2 separate regions of the Homo sapiens genome follow, and region 2 is linked to region 1. Evidence: fine-mapped expression QTL. A gene starts in region 1. The other region holds a variant in brackets. All regions are shown on one strand. Distances are from middle to middle.

Region 1 (2,922 bases):
AACATCAATTAAAGATTTATTTATTCATCAGCCTTGTAACTGGACTTCCTATGGCTAGGCTTTCTCCCATCAAATCAGTTCTTACATTATTTTCTACACTGAAGTTATAGTAATCTTCCTTTTTAAAAAAGGAATATACTTATCTGATCATGTTGTTCATCCGCTTAAAAACTTTCTATGACATTCCATTGCTCTCAGGATAAAATGCAAACTCTTTATCCCAGTTTACAACACCCCTGCTTATATTTCCACTCTTCTCTCAGAAACTGCACCTCTCCTTCCTAATACACAAATTCACAAATTTTATTTTCCAGCCATTCTGAACTTCTGTCAACACCAAACTTCTCCTTCCATGCCGAATCTTTTTGAATGCCTTTTCCTTTGCCTAGAGCACTCTTACTGATCTTAATTTCATTGGATAACAATTGCTAATTCTTCAGGTCTCAGTTAAGCCTCTAGGAAGACTTATCCAACTCCCTAAAACTGGATTGGGTCCCGACAGGCTCTCATATTAGCCTAGACTTATTTGAATCATGGCACTTATCACGCTCTATTTCTTACTCTTGGCTAGAAAACAGTCTTCTTGAAGTGGAAGGAATACTGTCTTGTATTCCATGTATTAGGCAGGATGTTGCGAATGGCAAGAACTAATAAATAATTGTTGGATTGTATGGCGTTTTTATTTTATGGTGCTCACTGGAAAAATAAAGAACAAAAAATTATTCATACGGTTATTTAAAAAGATATCACCTGAAATATAAAAAAAACTCAAAGGACTTTTGTACATGTCGTGGGGCGGGGCTAAGTTGAATTATCCAGACTATATTTTCAAATCTGTATGTAGGCTATACACAAAAATCTTCGTCTATTTCACCATAATGCAAAGAGATAGGGTATTTGTTTTACTCAGAAAGAATTAAAATTAAACGTAAAGCAATACAAATTTTTATAATGTTAGAAAACTACCAAAACTACATAAAGGTATATTCTATGATGTAGAAATTTCATTCCTAAGTATATATCCAAATACACACACACGCATATGTTCGCTAAAGTACACCCAGAAGAATGCTCATATAAGTTTTATTTATAATACCCCAAACTGGAAACAACCAAAATGCGTATTAGTAGGAGAATAGTAAACTTGTTTATTTTATGAGATAAATACTACACAGCAATAAAAAAGAATCAACCACTGATAAATGCAAAAATATGAATGAATCAGGAATGTTGAAAAAAAAAAGAGAAGGCAGACACAAAAGCTCTGGTTCAACATTTAGACTTGTGTTTCAAGAAACTGATAACTTTAGTTCTTTCTCCTCTCGCTCTTTTTTTAGACTAATGGTCTATCCTGAAGCCTGGGTTCAGTTTTAGCAACCGTGAAATCCAGGAAGGTTTCCCATAAGAAAATGGGATGGAAGGTCTGGACCGAACACACACAGCCAACAGAGCGGAGGCTCTGAGGCTCACATTAATCAGGGAAAAGGAAGACAGACGGTCGAGCTGAGAAACTTCAGCCGGGTGAGGGGACTAATCCCTCTGTAACGGTTGTCAGTCTGAAAGGGCATCCTCACTCGGTTCTGGGCTCACCTCGTCTAGTTCCGAAGTCCTGGGCAGTCCGCTCACTCGAGCTGTCAGCGCGTCCTGCACTGGGAAACCAGCTGACTTGCCGACATACTTTTTCCACACCGCGGATCCGCGAACGTAGATTCGCCACATCCTTTTCTATTTCCTGGCATCTTGTAGAAAATTTCTCAGTCCAAGTGCCCCTATGTCCCAACCTGTTTCAATTTAACAATTTGAAAGGTGCAATAAGGTGTATTTCTATTGTTATTCTGTATTTCAGAGACAGGGCAAATCCGCCGTTGTGACGAAAGTGCAGGGACAAAGCACAAACTCGGCTCTGGTGGACCGGATACGGAAAAGCGGTGCCTTGGGGAGGGCGGGAGCAAATTCGCTTTCCCCACAGCGCGTGCGCCGCCGCAAGCATGGCTGGTGATGATTGGACGACTGGTAACAGGGGGCGGAGGGCTCCGAAGTCTGGTTTTGGGCGGGAATTGAAACCGCCGCTGAAGCCAACAAGAATTTGAGAACTGTAAATACCAAGCCTTGAAAGGGACCATGGTGCGGCCTGTGAGGTGGGTAGTTCCTGACATTCGTCGGGGGTGGGAGGAAAACTAAGGGAAAAGACATGAGACTAAGGGGAAAGGATCGAGTAAGACCGGAGGGCAGCGATGGTGGGGTTAGGATGGACGGTTATCAAGAACCCAGTCTCCAGTGAGAGCCACCCGTTGCTCAGAAGTATCCTAGCATCGTAGCTTTTTCCTTCTCTTTGCCTCCCTTCACAACCGTCGCCGTTTCTTTTACCAAGACCTTGTTAGCGTTTGAACAGCGCTTTACATTTCACCGAGCGCCCAATTATGTGTTATTTTATTTGTTTATCACTGTAGTTATTTGATATAGAAAGAGTAAGCATTCCTGTTGTATTGATTTAACATTTCTACGTATAGAGGGTAAGTTATCTGAGTCATACAGCCCAGTAAGTGGCAGGGCAATACTCAAACCTAAGTCATCTCACTCAAGATCCTCTGTGCTTTCCATCGTGGTATTAGAAACGATTCTTCTATTTACACAGTTGAGTGCCATGGAAGCCTATAGTTAGCCATTCATTTAATAAAGTTATTGAATATATTCACTTCTTTAGTGTACGAGGTGCTGGAGGTTACATTCCAGTGGGAGGTGAGGTTAGGGGGCCGAAAATAAGCCTCGAAATATGAGAGTGCGAAAGAGGAAAGCACTACTTTAAATATAGTAGTTAATATGTGACTCTGAGGCGATAATGCATGCACTGAGTCATGAATCAGGGTAGAGGGAATAGGAGCCAAGGCCCCATACTTGACCATATTTTAGGGACAGTCTAAT
Region 2 (2,858 bases), 50 kb before region 1:
AGAAACTGAAAAATAGAAAATAAAAAGAAACTGAAAAATAGGCCTGAGGCTCGTCTCTAACTTTAGTGGGTTCTTTCTACAGTTCTGTGAATTCTCCCTTAGAGCCTCTAGAAAAGAAATGTTTCTGTGATTTCATCTTTCTTTTGTGAAACATGTTTTCTTCTTGTGAGAATTAGCCAGGATCCAACTGAAGTAACACAAATGATGGTGTGTACTGTGCCAATAAGAGATCTGCCAACTCCCAGGCAAGCTCAGTTTCTTCCCGCTGAAATTCTTTTTCATGCATTTCTTCCATTCTGGTCACACTGTCATGCTGAGAAACAGCTGGTGCCACACTTCTAGATCAATGGCTTTGCTTGTGTGGTGCTTCGAGAGCAGAAATGGGGGAAGGGGGGGAAAGAGCAGCACAGAATGGAGACCTCAGGTTCAGTGCCTCTGCCTGATTTCCAAAGCACACTCTTAAGGCCTTGAGGGCCATTTAGGAATATGTAACTGTTTATACAAATAGAAAACTTCTAACTCACAATCCTCACCAATGTCAATGTTTGTGCTAATCTCCCCATCCTCAAAGACTCTCGTGGTCAGCTCCTCTCAACTTACTGGCCATTTACCACTGCCTCCATTCTGCTTCTGCTCCTATCTGCGCCTTACTCAGTTGTCCCTTGGTATCTGCAGGAGACTGGTTCCAGACCCCCTGCCAATATCAATATCCCTGGATGCTCCAGTCTCATATAAAGTGGTGTAGTAATTGCATACAACCTACACACAGCCTCCCATATACTTAATCCGTCTATACATTACTTATACCAAATACAATGTAAATGCCATGTAAACAGATGTTATATTGTATTTTTAAAATTTTTATTGTATTTTTTTTCAGAATATTTTCCATCCACAGTTGGTTGAACAGAGTGCCATCTGTACCTAGAATGCTGTCTCAGCCCAAGGTACCTTCTTCACATCATTCATGAAGTGCTTTAAACCACTCCCCCTCAAGAAGCCCTTTAGAACACTCAGAAAAAGATCCTCATCTCATAATTCTTGGTCCAAATACAAAACTCCAGACTCCTCAATTACTGCATCACTAAAATTCCCACCATTTCAGTGCATATAATTAGCTTTTTAAGTTATATATTTATTATTAGCTTGGTGTTTGTGTGTTTCCATCAGTGGTAACACCATAAACATGATTCTTCCAATTTTACTACTTCTGTAACACAGTTGCATGTGGAAAACGGACATTCGATAAATTTATCCTGACTTCACATGCCAAATAGTACCTTTACACAGCCCTCAGTTAAAGCCACCAGTTTATAAGTAACTTAGTGGAATAGCCTAGAGGTGACAAAGGAAGAGTTGGGCAGCAGCATTCAACAAACATCCGTGAATGAAACTTTGCTCCTCCATTCCGATATCTGGGCTGC[A/C]CTGATCTACCACTCTCCTGGTTTCTGCCTCTGTCTTCCCTGCTTTGCATTAGAATCAGTCTCAGTGATTAACAGTGGTGCCTGAAAGACAATTTCTCCAAGAGAACTGTATAGGCTCTAAGGGCAAAACACCTGCCTTCTTGGCAGAATCGCCAGGCTCCCTGACAAATAATTTGGAGAGTTTTAGTGTCTAATGGACATACTGCTGGAGTGGGTGTTCTTAGGGTTGTCTTTAGTGTTGTTACCTGGACAAACCTTTCCCTCGAGTAGAAAATTAAGACACATTCTGTTATAGGAAAGCACTCTGCTTGCCAACAGTTTCTATAATAGTTATTACACTGAGGCATATTAATGAAGGGCGTTTTGTTTCTTGTCATCAAGACATGCCATCTTATGACACCAAATGCCCTCCATTTCATTCTTGTGGCCAGTTACAATATCCACATAACTTGGAATTGATGAAACTATTGCTTTTCTAAACACCTGTGTGCTTTTGTAAATGCCTTTGTTTAATGGAGTTACTACTTATAGCATTTAAATATGTTATAGATGGGACAAATATATGATATGTAGCACCTGAGAAAGTAGTACCATAAGGAAAAACAATGGAAAAGGAGGGGAAACAGAGAAGCAGAAATGGGGATACATTTATCCGCAAAAAAATGCAAGAGGTAGAGGAATGGTTAAGCAAGCTGAGAACGCAGGGAGGACAGAAATGTAGAAATGATCTTCCTTGTGTGATTGTCACAATGTTGATGAGCACTAAAATACTGCCAGGTGCTGGTTTAGACTAACTTGACATCAAGCTTGCAAAAAAGAACACTATTTCCCAGTCCATGAAATGTTATTAATATGCAAGTGCAAGGGCACAGCGGGAGGATGAGAGAGAGGGAAAAAATCCAAAACGTCTTCTGACTCTAACTTGTACATCCTTAGGAGTAGATTAAAAAGAGATTCTGAAACAGGAGAATTTAAAAGAACAAGCACATTTGTCTTATACATTTGTGTTTCTATAAAAAGATTTTCACAGGAAATTTGTACTTGCAATGTATATTTCAGTGCTTTTACATTTTGTTTTGGCAAAGAAAGTAAAAGGAAAATTTTGTTTGTATGTTTAATTAAGGATTGCACCTGAGACGAGTCAAGCCTCTTGAAAAAGTCAAATGCCTCCATGTAAATATAATCAAGTTTCCTTTCCCAAGTGTCCATGTGTGATAAATAAAAAGTTTTAGATTACTAATATTCACAGGTAACACAGAGAAGAAAAAAAGAGAAATTCATAAAGAGACTTTAAGTGTTTAAGTTAGGGGTTGATCACCAGTTTGTGCAGTATATAAATTTTTGGAATGGTTTCACACACATGTATCTTGATTTGTGGATTGAGCTGCAAGTTCTCTTTCTGGGCATCTTTTGCTTGACAGATTCCCAGCATAG

Which allele goes with the higher level. Alleles are on the strand shown, and positions count from the first base shown. SD is a standard deviation of normalised expression in the study named.
For the expression in monocytes after LPS of the gene that starts at base 1,651 in region 1, A is the high allele of the variant in region 2 and C is the other (large effect, 0.94 SD a copy in Kim-Hellmuth 2017).

What was found. PIP is the estimated chance that this variant, and not a neighbour inherited with it, causes the effect.
Region 2: its variant is fine-mapped to the expression of FERRY3 in monocytes after LPS (Kim-Hellmuth 2017, PIP 0.95).

Annotation. Positions count from the first base shown.
Region 1 is chr12:4,536,819-4,539,740 of GRCh38, forward strand. FERRY3 (FERRY endosomal RAB5 effector complex subunit 3) reads right to left here and starts at 1,651. Exons shown (of 14, transcript NM_020374.4): 1 at 1,591-1,651. It overlaps RAD51AP1 (RAD51 associated protein 1), which reads left to right and starts at 2,072. Exons shown (of 9, transcript NM_006479.5): 1 at 2,072-2,138. The coding sequence starts at 2,122. RefSeq lists enhancers at 1,286-1,895, 1,896-2,504 and a silencer at 1,631-1,680.
Region 2 is chr12:4,486,891-4,489,748 of GRCh38, forward strand. FERRY3 (FERRY endosomal RAB5 effector complex subunit 3) reads right to left here. Exons shown (of 14, transcript NM_020374.4): 14 at 845-2,858. Among named protein-coding and RNA genes, the nearest start is that of FGF6, 43 kb to the left of the region's middle. The variant A/C (reference allele first, on the strand shown) is at 1,425.